4 linked regions of the Homo sapiens genome follow. The protein of the gene in region 3 purifies or fractionates together with the protein of the main gene of each other region. This does not show direct contact. Each region holds a gene or a part of one and is shown on either strand. Other genes may lie near its edges.

Region 1 (2,289 bases), on a different chromosome or scaffold from region 3:
AAATTTAATTAGCAAAAACTGCTTTATCAATAAATGGGAAGTTTTTAAAGCTGCTTCTAGCTGTTTTACAATACAGTTTTCTGACATGGTGGCTTGCAGGTATATCAACCATTCGTGTGCACCTAATTGTGTGGCTGAAGTGGTGACTTTTGAGAGAGGACACAAAATTATCATCAGCTCCAGTCGGAGAATCCAGAAAGGAGAAGAGGTAAGAGTGTGAGAGATTGCATCTGCCATGTTGTTCAGATCCTGGGCGAATAGTTCCCTCCTCACACAGGTCACTTACTCACTTGTTTCCCAATTCTTTGTTGTGATAAAAACTCTGTCCATAATAGGCCAGATGTTCCCACCCTGCAGTATCTCACCCTTCAGGCACTCCAGTTCACCTTCCTCCACATGGCAGCTCTGTGAGCATTTGCTGTCACCTCTCCCTTCCCTTCTGTGCCACGGGTTCAGCATCCCCATGGCACCCAGGTGGTATCATTTCTGTGTGCCATAGGATCCTTCTTTATCCCCTTAACCTGGACACAGTTTGGCAGTGTCCCCTCTGAAGAGCATCCCCGTCCTTCTCCAAGGGGGCCGTGGCTCCTGAGATGGCACTGTTGGGCTGTGGGCGGCAAATCTGGGCCGCCGTGCTGCTGAGGATTGTGTGCTCACGCTGGCGATCAGTGTGTGCTTAACCAAGTGCCCACATCGCCACATTCTTCAGCAGTTCAGGTGTGGGTTGTTGTCTTCAAAATGCCGAGTGCCAAGCTTGCTGTTTGTCTCCGTGCTCTCAGAGGTGACTCTGGTCCGGCGGCTCACCCATTGGGATTATTTTTGGCCTTAATTGCTGCATTTGCTTCCCACCTTGGTCTTTCCCACTGTGATTCAGGTACCTTGGTTCTGGAATTGGCATTTCCTGGAAAGCTGTCACTGAGCAGCAGGCTTGGTTTCTGTAGGAAACGTCCCGCATTTGGGGAGTGAGGCACCTGAGTGACTTGACTTTGTTGGTGCTCCTCTCCCTTCGTGAACATAGCCATGGGATTCGTGGGATTCTATCTGTATTTTGGGTCTTTGTGGAATCTCCTTTCTTAGTCAAGAATAAGGATCCGACTAGACCCAAGGCCCGTTATACATCTCAAAGTAACGTGTAAATAAGACAGTGTGTGGGAGCCCTGGCACAGTGCCAGTAACCAATGGCTACCATGGTGGTCAGAAGAGACTCAGCCCAGGGCCACCTGCCTCCTTCCTACTTGAGTATTCTTGAGTAAATAGTTTAATATGAGCCCCTATTTTATCTTCTGCAAGATAGAGAAAATGACTTCCTTACCAGGCTCTTGGAAGGACTCAGCAGATACCTGAAAGAAAGCAGTGGAATCATTGCCAAGAACAGCTGCTCAATAAACACTGGTTTCCTTCCTTTCTGTGTAGAAGGTCTTTCCAGCTAGCGTCTAGAATCATTTCACTCAGAAGAGACCTAGAAATTCCTGGGCCTCCCCTTCATTTTGCAGCATCGGCTCTCTCTGGGGTGGTGGGGGTTGCAGGGCCGCGCACTGAGGCTTGTACCGTGGGACTCACGCAGACTCCCACCTACCTTGATTGGTCTGAGATGTTAATTTGGTGACCTCTAAATAGAAAGACATCCTTTCAGTCTTGAGTGAGGAAAAATGAAGGAGGGAAAACAGAGTTAGCTGGCAGTTCATCTCACCCAGAATTGCATGCCCCATTCAGTAAATCAGGGGAGGTGAAAGGCTTCTGGGTTTTAGGGAGAGGGCTAGGAAAGCAGTTGCCCTTCCAGTCCCCTCCATCCACTTGCAGGGACAGCATTATGAGAAGTCACAGAAATACAGCTTTCTCTGGTCAGGCTCCCGTTCTCAGATCTCGCTGTTTAAAAATACTGCCTCCCTCATTTCCTCTGTGCAAGCACAATGCCTCTTTTCAGGGTTCCCCCAGGGTCCCATGGAACCTCAATAAATCAGGTCTTCCTTAATTTACGTCTGTTTCGTTTGCTGGTTTTAAAATGCAAGGGAGATGGAGGCAGAAACGCTATTGCCTTCCTTGCTGTCCTTTCTTACCCTGTGTCTTTGCCGTGGGCAGCTCTGCTATGACTATAAGTTTGACTTTGAAGATGACCAGCACAAGATTCCGTGTCACTGTGGAGCTGTGAACTGCCGGAAGTGGATGAACTGAAATGCATTCCTTGCTAGCTCAGCGGGCGGCTTGTCCCTAGGAAGAGGCGATTCAACACACCATTGGAATTTTGCAGACAGAAAGAGATTTTTGTTTTCTGTTTTATGACTTTTTGAA
Region 2 (3,500 bases), on a different chromosome or scaffold from region 3:
TGAGACAGGTCTCAATTTAGAAGTTTATTTTGCCAAGATTAAGGATATACGTGACACAGCCTCAGGAGGTCCTGACAACACGTGCCCAAGGTGGTTGGGTTACAGCTTGGTTTTGTACATTTTAGGGAGACATAAGCCATCTATCAATACATGTAAAAGGTACATTAGTTGGGTCCAGAAAAGATGGACAACTCGAAGTAGGGATTTTCAGGTCACGGGTGGATTCAGAGATCTTCTGATTGGCAACTGGTAGAAAGAGTTTATCTAAAGACCTGGAATCAATACAAGGGAGTATTGTAAGAGTGCTGTTAAGATAAGGGGTTGTGGAGACCCAGGTTCTCATTTTGTAGATGAAACCTCCAGATAGCAGGCTTCAGAAAGAAGAGACTGTAAATGTTTCTTATCTACTGAAAGAGTCTGTTCAGTCAGTCTTAAGGTCTCTGTTTTGATGTTAATGCTGGTCTGCAGTACCTGAATTCCAAAGGGAGGAAGGCATAATGAGGCATGTCCAAACCACCCATTCCCAGCACGACCTGAACTAGTGTTTCAGGTTTACTTTAGAATGCCATTGGCTGAGAGGAGGGGGTCCATTCATTTAGTTGGGTGGCTTAGAATTTTATTTTGGTGTACAATATATTAATGAAATAGACACCTCAGGGGTAATACATGAGAAAGAATAGTCTCTACAAAATAGATTATAAAAGTTACTAGGCAAACAACTACATTCAACATATAGCAGAAAAATGAAATCTTTGGAAAGAGTAAAATCTGATTTGTGAGTAAGTATACTAAGGAAATGAAGTACTTGAATTATGAAGCAAGCACAGTAACAGAATACGGTCAGTTCACAGAAAAAAGAAATTAACAGAAACTGACCCTGGGGAAGTCAAGACATGTTGGACTTACTAAATTAAGATGCTCAAAAATCTAAAAGAAACCATGGACAAATATCTAGGGGAAACAAGAAAAGTGATGTGTCTACAAATAGAGAACATCAATATGGATTTAAAAATTATAAAAAAGAACCAAACAGAAATTCTGGAATTGAAAAGTATAACAAAAATGAAAAAATTTGCTAGAGAGGTTCAATACAAGATTTGAGCAGGCAGAAGAAAAAGTGAGCCAATTTGAAGGTAGATCAATTGCACTTGTCTAGTCTTAAGAGCAGAAAGAAAAAATAATGAAGAAAATCAGAGTCTAAGAGAAATACCATAAAGCACACCAATGTAGGCAAAAATCAAAGTCTCAGAGGGAGAAGAAAGAACATTTGAAGAAATGATTGGAAACTTCCCAAATCTGATGAAAGACAAGAACCTACACATCAAGCTCAAAGAATCTAAGTAGAATAAATTCAAAAAGATCCACTCTAAGACACATTATAATTAAACTGTGAAAAAACAAAGAAAAGCTTGAAAGCAACAAGACAAAAATAATTCATCACTTACAAGGGATCCTCAGTAACATTAACAGTGGATTTCTCATCACAAAACATAAAGGCCTGGAGGAAGCAGGAGGACTTTTTTTTTTTTTCTTAAGACAGAGTCTTACTCTGTCACCCAGGCTGGAGTGCAGTGGCATGATCTTGGCTCACTGCAACCTCCGCCTCCCGCGTTCAAACGATTCTCCTGCCCCAGCCTCCTGAGTTACTGGGATTACAGGCATGCGCCATCATGCCTGGCTAATTTCTGTATTCTTAGTATAGATGGGGTTTCACCATGCTGGCCAGGCTGGTCTCAAACTCCTGACCTCAAGTGATCCACCCGTCTCGGCCTCCTTAAGTGCTGGGATTATAGGTGTGAGCCACTGTGCCTAGTTGGACATTTTTTTAAGTGCTGGAAAAAAACAAAATTGCCAGCCAAGAATTCTATATATATACCAAACTATCATTCAAAAAAAGAAAAGAAAGAGATTCCTAGATAACAAAAGCTAAGGGAGGTAGACACTAGGAGACCCGCCCATAAGAAATGCTAAAGAAGCCTTTTAGATTGAAATGAAGGATGGGAGAAGTGACGGGTGGGGCGGGGTGGGGGCAGTGTCAGGGAGGGCAAGGGGGAGGGGGTAGGGGGAGGGGGAGGGAGGGAGAGAGAAAGGAAAAAAGGAAGACAAACGCAGGTAAAATTAACTACATAAGTAAATATAGAAGCCAGTATTTTTTTTTTTTTTTTGAGACGGAGTCTCGCTCTGTCACCCAGGCTGGAGTGCAGTGGCACGATCTCGGCTCGCTGCCAGCTCCGCCTCCCAGGTTCACGCCATTCTCCTGCCTCAGCCTCCTGAGTAGCTGGGACTACAGGGGCCTGCCACCACGCCCGGCTAATTTTTTTTTGTATTTTTAGTAGAGATGAGGTTTCACCATGTTAGCCAGGATGGTCTCGATCTTCTGACCTCGTGATCCACCCGCCTCGGCCTCCCAAAGTGCTGAGATTACAGGCGTGAGCCACTGCGCCTGGCCAGAAGCCAATATTTCTGTATTTTAAGTAACTCTTCTTTTTGTTTCCTTTATGATTTAAAAGACTAATGCATAAAACAATATTTATAGCCTATGTTAATGGGTATATGGTGCATAAAGAGAGTTTGTGACAATATAACAAGGGCACAGTCAAAGAGTTTTTTGTAGGCTACTAAAGATAAGATTATAATAAATTTAGGACATTAGTTATAATCATTGGGGTAATCACTAAGAAAATAATAAACCCGCACATGGATGTTTATAACAGCTTGATACATAACTGCCAAAACCTGGAAGCAACCAAGAAGTCCTTCGGTAAATGAATGAATAAATAAATTATGGTACATCCACACAATAGAGTATTATTCAGCACAAAACCAAAAATGAGCTATCAAAGCATGGAAAGACATAGAGGAAACTTAAATGCATATTACTAAGTGAAAGAAACCAATGTGAAAAGGCTACATACTGTTAAGATTCCAACTGTATGACCATTGTGGAAAAGGCAAAACTACGGAGGAAGTGAGGTGAGTGGTTGCGAGGAGTTCAAGATTTAGTGAAAGACCAGGCATAAGTAGCTCATGCCTGTAATCCTAGCACTTTGGGAGGCCAAGGTGGACAGATTGCTCGAGCCCAGGAGTTGAAGACCAGCCTGGGCAACACAGAGAAACCCCATCTCTACAAAAAAAATAAAATAAGCTGAGCGTGGTGGTGTGCACCTGTACTCCCAGCTACTAGGGAGGCTGAGGTGGGAGAATATATATATCTATCTATCTCATAAAAGGGAGCAAGAAGGGAATAAGAAAAGTAAGAATAGAGGCTGGGCATAGTGGCTCACGCCTATAATCCCAACACTTTGGAAGTCTGAGGTGGGAAGATGACTTGAGGCCGGGAGTTTGAGACAAGCCTGAGCAACACAGTGAGACGCCATTGCTAGCAAAAAACTAAAAATTAGCTAGGTGTGGTGGCACGTTCCCGTACTCCTAGCTACTCAGGAGGTTGAGGCAGGAGGATTGCTTGAGCCCAGATGTTTGAGGTTACAGTGAGCTATGAT
Region 3 (3,500 bases):
GTCTCTGTTCCTGGCTTAGGATGCCGGACAGAAGAGCAGGGGCCCAGCCTGGGCTCCGTTCTCATCTGGTGGTCTTGACGACGTCTCTGGATCTCTGCCCTCTGTCCCATGCCCCACACAGGCTTCAGAGTTGGAGAGACCTGGATTCAGATCCCTCCTCTGAGGCAGTCACTTCCCCTCTCTGGGCCTTGCTTTCTTCTCTGTAAAATGGGTGTAATGGGAACACCTCCCTCCCAGGTGGTTGTGAGGATCAAAGCGGGTAAAAGGCGCTGAAGCTTGCAGGGTGCCAGGAGCTCTGAGTTCGGAGCCGGTTTATTACACAGCAAGGCCCTCTGCCCTGTCAGGGTCTCCCCACCTCTGCCCTATCCACGTTCTGGGCTGGGACATTCTGTGGCGGGGCTGTCCTGGGCACCGTAGGGTGAGTGTGAACAATATCCCTGACCACCACCCACCAGATGCTAGTAGCACCCTGTCCCCTAAGCGGTAGCAACCAAAAATGTCCCCTGGGAAGCACTGTCAACCCCGCAGTGAGAACCTTGGACTTGGCCTTCAGCCCTGCAGTAGCTCATGGTGTGCTGTGACCGTGATGGGCCTCAGCTCCCTTTCTTTCCTCCCCACTCACCCTTTAGCAGTGAGTGACTCCTATTTGCAAACTGTGTCCCGGACACACTCCTCACCTGGTTGTTCAGGTTCTCCGTGACTGTCCTTCTGCCCTTCCAGGGTGGCAGCTTCCACCTGAGAGGACAGGAGCCCCCACGGGGTCCCCTGCACGCCCTGCAATGAGGGGCAGCCCGGCATCTGTGGGGTCTTCTGGGCTGCTCTCTGGCCTCTGAGCTCCGGGTCTTCCTGGGCTGCTCTTTGGCCTCTGAGCTTTGGCAGGTCCTTGCCCAGGCTTGCTTGGCTGCCCCCAGGGGTGGCACTTCCACACCCTCCCAGTCACCATAGCCCTGACCTGTCGATTTGCCAGACAGTTTTCTTTAAGTCCATTTAAAAATGACTCACCTCTTTGATCTTGGCCTCTTCCTGAACAGTAATGTCCCCAGAGTTGTGGAACGTTAATGTGCTAGTTGCACATACTTTTATTTATTTATTTTGAGACAGAATCTCACTCTGTCACCCAGGCTGGAGTACAGTGGCTAGATCTCAGCTCACTGCAACCTCCGCCTCCCGGGTTCAAGTGATTCTCTGGCCTCAGCCTCCCGAGTAGCTGGGATTACAGGTGCCCGCCACCACACCCTGCTAACTTTTGTATTTTTAGTAGACACGGGGTTTCACCATGTTGACCAGGCTGGTCTCAAACTCCTGACCTCAAGTGATCCGCCTGCCTCGGCCTCCCAAAGTGCTGGGATTACAGGCATGAGCCACTATGCTCGGCCAAGTTGCACATACTTTTACTAATTCGCGTTCAAATGAGCTTAACCACTATATTAAAAAAAAGAAAATTTGTATCTTCCCAAATACTGAGGGGGGAGTGGATTGACGAATTGATGTTTCTTGGTTTTTGGACAAATTAATTTTCAAGCTCACTCCCTGCGTGACTGGCCTGTTCTAGGATGCTGGACTTGGTTAGATCTGGGTCCGTCTATTCCCTCCTGCTCCCTTGAGGAGCTCGGAAAATGGCCTTCCCTGTTGGGGCGGGGAACATGGGAAGTCTCTACCTCCTGCTTAGTTTTGCTGTGAACCTAAAACTGCTCTCTGAAACAAAGCATATTAAAAAAAAAAAAAAAAAAAAACTGGCTGGGTGCGGTGGCTCATGCCTGTAATCCCAGCACTTTGGGAGGCTGAGGCGGGCGGATCACCTGAGGTCAGGAGTTCGAGAACAGCCTGGCCAACATGGTGAAACCTCGTCTCTTCTAAAAATAAAAAAATTAACTGGGCGTGGCGGTGCACACCTGTAGTCCCAGCTACTTGGGAGACTGAGACAGGAGAATTGCACCGAGATCCTGCCACTGCACTCCAGCCTGGGTGACAGGGCAAGACTCCGTCTCAAAAAAATAAATAAGTGGCCGGGCGCAGTGGCTCACGCCTGTAAAGCCAGCACTTTGGGAGCCAAGGCGGGCAGATCACAAGGTCAGGAGATCGAGACCATCCTGGCTAACACCGTGAAACCCCGTCTCTACTAAAAATGCAAAAAAAATTACCCGGGCATGGTGGTGGCCGGTGCCTGTAGTCCCAGCTACTCGGGAGGCTGAGGCAGGAGAATGGTGTGAACCCGAGAGGCGGAGCTTGCAGTGAGTTGAGATCGCGCCACTGTACTCCAGCCTGGGCGACAGAGCGAGACTCCATCTCAAAAATAAATAAATAAGTAAGTAAGTAAGTAAATAAATACATAAAATAAAAAACTGGCCAGGTGTGGTGGCTCACGCCTGTAATCCCAGCACTTTGAGAGGCCGAGGCGGGAGGATCACCTGAGGTCAGGAGTTTGAGACCAGCCTGGCCAACATAGTGAAATCCCATCTCTACAAAAATACAAAAATCAGCCGGGCATGGTGGTGGGCGCCTGTAGTCCCAGCTACTCGGGATGTGGGGGCACGAGAATCTCTGGAACCTGGGAGGCAGAGGCTGCAGTGAGCCAAGATCACACCACTGCACTCCAGTCTGGGAGACAGAGCGAGACTCTGTCTCCAAAAAAAAAAAAAAGAAGGTAGTCAAAGGAGTAAAAACCAAAACAAACAAACAAACAAAAGATTTTCCCCTGCTCAGAACCTTCCGGTGACTTCCTGTTGCCCTTGGGAAAAATTCTGGGCCCTTTCGCGTGGCCCCTTCGCTCTGTCATCTGTGGCCTTGTCCTTCCTTCCTTTCCTCCCTTTCTTCCTCCTGCACCTGCTCCTTTCCTGGCACAGCCGCCTTCCCTGCCCGCCCTTCCCTGCCGCAGGACCTGTGCACTTGCTGTGCCCGCTGCCTGGTTCTCTTTCCACCCAGCCGGCTCCTTATCACTCTAGTCACTTCCCTTCCCTACTTCTCCTCCTTTGCATGTCACACGATCAGAGCTGGGTATTAGTCTGTTTGTGTATCTGTTTGTCTCATCTACTAGGGCAGGGGCTTTTTCTGGAAGGGCCGGAGAATAAATATTTTTGGCTTTGTAAGCCAGAGGTCATCTCTGTCCAGACCACTCTGCTTTGCCGTTGTAGCAAGAAAGCTCCCGTGGGCGAGTGTGCCTGTGTTTCAGTAAAACTTTATTTATGGACACAAACGTGAATTCCGTGCAATTTTTACATTATAAGACATTTTTCTTCTTTTGCTTTTTTTTTCCTCCAACGACTAAAAAATGTCAAAACCATTCTTAGACTGCAGGCTGTACAAAAACAGGTGGCGGGCAGGATTGAACCTGTGGGTTGTAGTTTGCAAATACCTGGCTAGGGTGTGAGGGCCACACTACGGAAAGCTATGGAAACCATGTCAGCCTCACGACCCCTAGAATGTACGGCAGCTCCTTAGACGTGGTGGGTGTTGAGTGGACATTCCTTGTTGAGTGAATGAATTTTTTTTTTTTTTTTTGA
Region 4 (3,973 bases), on a different chromosome or scaffold from region 3:
TGACCTCAAACGAGCTGCCTGCCTCGGCCTCCCAGAGTGCTGGGATTACAGGCATGATGTCACCAGGCCCGGCAGACACACTGCATTCTAATATGCAAAATCATTAAGTCTATGAGGGTCATTCATTCTGCAAATATTTACTGAGCAAGTGTCCTATGTGTCTGGCATTGTTGTAGGTACTGGAAGAAAAGGGTAATACCATTTCCTGTCCTCATGTAGCTTACAATGTATTTGAGAATATATCTGAGAACAAAATAAATCTCAGGACATGCGAGCTCCAAAGAATTAAAACAGGGTAAGGGGCTGAGAGTAAGAGGGGTGTTCTTCAGTGATGCCTCGTCTAAGGAGGAGACTTCTGAGCAAAGACAAGGAAGAACCAGACAGGAAAAGATGTGTGTGAGGAGAGCTCCAGGCAGCCCGAACAGCACGTGTAAAGGACCTGAAACCGGAGCAAACTTAGTCGACAGTATGACCAGCTGGATTGTTCTCTCTCTCTCCTAGGTAAGGAAAAACGCTGCTTCATTAATACAGTACATGCATGCCCCTGCCTCTATCAAAAGACACGTTCAAGGCCGGGTGTGATGGCACACGCCTGTAATCCCAGCACTTCGGAAGGCTGAGGCGGGTGGATCACCTGAAGTCTGAAGTTCAAGACCAGCCTGGCCAACATGGTGAAACCCCGTCTCTACTAAAAATACAAAAATTAGGCGGGGCGCGGTGGCTCACGCCTGTAATCCCAGCACTTTGGGAGGCAGAGGCGGGCAGATCATGAGGTCAGGAAATCGAGACCATCCTGGCTAACACAGTGAAACCCCGCCTCTACTAAAAATATAAAAAATTAGCCGGGCGTGGTGGCGGGCGCCTGTAGTCCCAGCTACTCGGGAGGCTGAGGCAGGAGAATGGCGTGAACCCGGGAGGCGGAGCCTGCAGTGAGCCGAGATCGCGCCACTGCAATACATCTCCAGCCCTCAAGCTGGGTGAATGCTTAACGAGTGGATGGAGGTGCTGCCTCTGCAATACATGTGGGCGACAGAGCGAGACTGTCTCAAAATAAATAAATAAATAAATAAATAAATAAATAAATAAATAAAAATACAAAAATTAGCTGGGCATGGTGGCGTGCACATGTAATCCCAGCTACTCCGGAGGCTGAGGCAGGAGAATCGCTTGAACCCAGGAGGCTGAGGTTGCAGTGAGCCAAGATCGTGCCATTGCACTCCAGCCTGGGTGATGGAGTGAGACTCCGTCTAAAAAAAATAAATCAAAAAACAAAGATATGTTCAAGGCCGAGTGTGGTTGCTCAAGCCTGTAATTCCAGCACTTTGGGAGGTCAAAGCAGGAGGATTGCTTAAGGTCAGGAGTTTGAGGCCAGGCTGGGCAACACAGCGAGACCCTGTGTGGTGGCACATGCCTATAGTCCCAGCTACTTGGGAGGCTGAGGTGAGAGGATTGCTTGAGCCCAGGAGTTCAAGGCTGCAGTGAGCGATGATCACGCAACTGCACTCCAGCCTGGGCAACAAGAGCAAAATTCTGTCTCAAAAAAATTAAAAAAATAAAAATAAAAAAACCAAAAACATGTTCACAAGGAGTTGTTAAGTACGTACTGTTGGCTACTTTCCTAATGTTTGAACCTAACAATTGCCTAACCAACCCCTTTTCAATAGTGTTGTACAGTCTGATTTTCGACAGATCCCTCAATAGTCGAGGCTCCCCCAGGCCAATGGGGCATAGTCATTTCATAGATGATTAGAGGCTTGGGGATGGGGGGGAGGGAACCTTAGTAACCCTTTATTTTTGGAATGGAAAAAAAAAGTAGTCTGACGGGACCAAATATTTTAAAAACTAAACTCTTTGCCAACCCTACTCGGCAGGCAACGAAGGTGTGCTTCTAAACACCTCTGCGCAGGGCTGACGAGGAGGACTCGAATTTCAGCTTGCACAGCAGCACCTCCATCCACTCGTTAAGCATTCACCCAGCTTGAGGGCTGGAGAAAGCACTCTGAGTCTGCAGCCCGTCCACTCCTACTCTGGGAAATGCATACAAAGCAAGCAGTCCCCAGAGCCCGCGTGGCGCCTAGTAGGCTCCCAGTGAGCGGCGACGCAGGACACAGGGGTGGAACACGTGGGCTGGACCCACAGAAGGCAGGCGCGGCGAAGCAGTGGCACCGTGAAGGGCTTCAGGGCCAGTGTTCCTCTGACGGAGGGACAAGAGTTTAGGGAGCGTCCGGGGCAAAGAAAGGGAGGAGTGGGAAGGGGGCCCCCGGGGGACAGCGCCGCGCGGGGAGGAGGGGAGCGCTCGGGCGCGGCGCCTCCGGACGACTGGCCGGGCAGAGCGGAGCGGGGAGCGGGGAGCGGAGAGCGGCGCCTGCACCGCCGAAGCGCAGGACCCACTGGGTTCCAACCGTGCTCCCGCTGGCACGATCCATAATGGAGGCGCCGCGGGCTCTGACCACTGCGGGGCCGCCTTCCCAGTCCGCCTTCCCAGTCCGCACTGCCTCTTGGGGCGGGGCCCTGGGGCTGGGGCTGGGGCCAGGGCCAGGCCGAGGAGCCCCGGCGGCCGCGGGGAGGCCGCGCACTTACCCGGAGCCTGGGAGCGCGGGCGCGGCGTGAGCTGGGCGGCGAGGTGGCCAGCGCTCTGGTTGGGACGCAAGAGAGCGGCGAAGGCCACTTGGATGAGCCAGCGGCTAGGGCGGCCAGGCAAAAGCAGCGCTTTCCGCGCGGAGGACCAGATGCGCTCCAGCCGACTCACCGGCGGCCGGGCTCGCACACGTGCGGCGCAGCGACGCGCCGCGGCCCGACTGGACCCGCCCCGGGGGCGGAGTCCGCTCCCTGCCGCCGGCCCCGCCCCCGGCCCACCCACTCGGAGCGGCCTGCAAGCCAGGGAGCGCCCCAACGCGGACTCCCAGCCTACGCGCGTTCACCCTGGACCTTCCTCGCGACCGCGCCTGAGTCGCACCAGCGGCAGAGAGCGATTTCACCAAGCATCTAAGAGTTCTTTAGATCTTTAGGAAGTCTAAGGCAGCGATTGCCTCCTTTGGTGTTATATTCTAAGTGTTTCCTTCACATAGTTGTGGCCCTTTCACGTTGCACCGACCACGCAGTTGACAATAATGGAAAGAGAATCACTTTAGGGACTAAATATTGTTCTACATTTGATCCTGGGAATGTAGTGGATCTAAAAGCACCATCTTCCTACTTCTTACCGCTCTGGCTTGATGGCTTGCCATAGGATCTGCTTCAAGAAACCGGATCATAGGTTTTTTTTGTTTTGGTTTGGTTTGGTTTTGACAGAGTCTCGCTCTGTCGCACAGGCTGGAGTGCGGTGGCGTGAACACAGTTCACTGCAGCCTCGACCTCCCAGGCTCAAGCAATCCTCCCACTTCAGTATCCCAAGTAGCTGGGACTACAGGTGCATCCCACCGCACCCAGGCTAATTTTTTTGGGGGTGGGGGGTAGAGACAAGATTTCACTATGTTGCCCAGGCTCTAATAGTTTTTTTGCTTTTTGTTTGTTTGTTTGTTTTTTGAGACGGAGTCTTGCTCTGTCGCCCAGGCTGGAGTGCAATGGCGCGATCGCTGCTCACCGCAACCTCCGCCACCCGGGTTCAAGCGATTCTCCTGCCTCAGCCTCCCGAGTAGCTGGGATTACTGGCGCACGCCACCATGCCCGGCTTATTTTTTGTATTTTTAGTAGAGTACGGGGTTTCACTATGTTGGCCAGGCTGGTCTCGAACTCTTGACTTCGTGATCCGCCCGCCTCCGCCTCTGTGTTGAGATTACAGGCGTGAGCCACCGCTCCCAGCCTCTAATAGTTTTTCCGTTTTGTTTTATTTTGTTTGAGAGAGAGTCTCACTCTGTTGCAGGGTTCAAGCGATTCTCCTGCATCAGCCTCCCGAGTAGCTGGGCCTACGAGTGCTTGACATCATGCCAGACTAATTTTTTTGACGGGGTTTTTGCCTGTTGGCCTTGAACTC

The links.
Region 1: the proteins of KDM4B (region 3) and KMT2C purify together in Homo sapiens (affinity purification with western blotting, with the first as the bait; one study listed by BioGRID). This does not show direct contact.
Region 2: the proteins of KDM4B (region 3) and PKN2 purify together in Homo sapiens (affinity purification with mass spectrometry; one large-scale study listed by BioGRID and IntAct). This does not show direct contact.
Region 4: the proteins of KDM4B (region 3) and PUS7 purify together in Homo sapiens (affinity purification with mass spectrometry; one large-scale study listed by BioGRID and IntAct). This does not show direct contact.

The regions. Positions count from the first base shown.
Region 1 is NC_000007.14:152,136,715-152,139,003, reverse strand, and holds part of KMT2C (histone-lysine N-methyltransferase 2C), read left to right. Parts: intron 1-99; coding exon 100-208; intron 209-2,079; coding exon 2,080-2,172; 3' UTR 2,173-2,289. UniProt on the Homo sapiens protein: Histone methyltransferase that catalyzes methyl group transfer from S-adenosyl-L-methionine to the epsilon-amino group of 'Lys-4' of histone H3 (H3K4).
Region 2 is NC_000001.11:88,774,773-88,778,272, reverse strand, and holds part of PKN2 (serine/threonine-protein kinase N2), read right to left. Parts: intron 1-3,500. UniProt on the Homo sapiens protein: PKC-related serine/threonine-protein kinase and Rho/Rac effector protein that participates in specific signal transduction responses in the cell.
Region 3 is NC_000019.10:4,972,113-4,975,612, forward strand, and holds part of KDM4B (lysine-specific demethylase 4B), read left to right. Parts: intron 1-3,500. UniProt on the Homo sapiens protein: Histone demethylase that specifically demethylates 'Lys-9' of histone H3, thereby playing a role in histone code. Does not demethylate histone H3 'Lys-4', H3 'Lys-27', H3 'Lys-36' nor H4 'Lys-20'.
Region 4 is NC_000007.14:105,519,472-105,523,444, forward strand, and holds the start of PUS7 (pseudouridylate synthase 7 homolog), read right to left. Parts: upstream 2,801-3,973; 5' UTR 2,581-2,800; intron 1-2,580. UniProt on the Homo sapiens protein: Pseudouridylate synthase that catalyzes pseudouridylation of RNAs.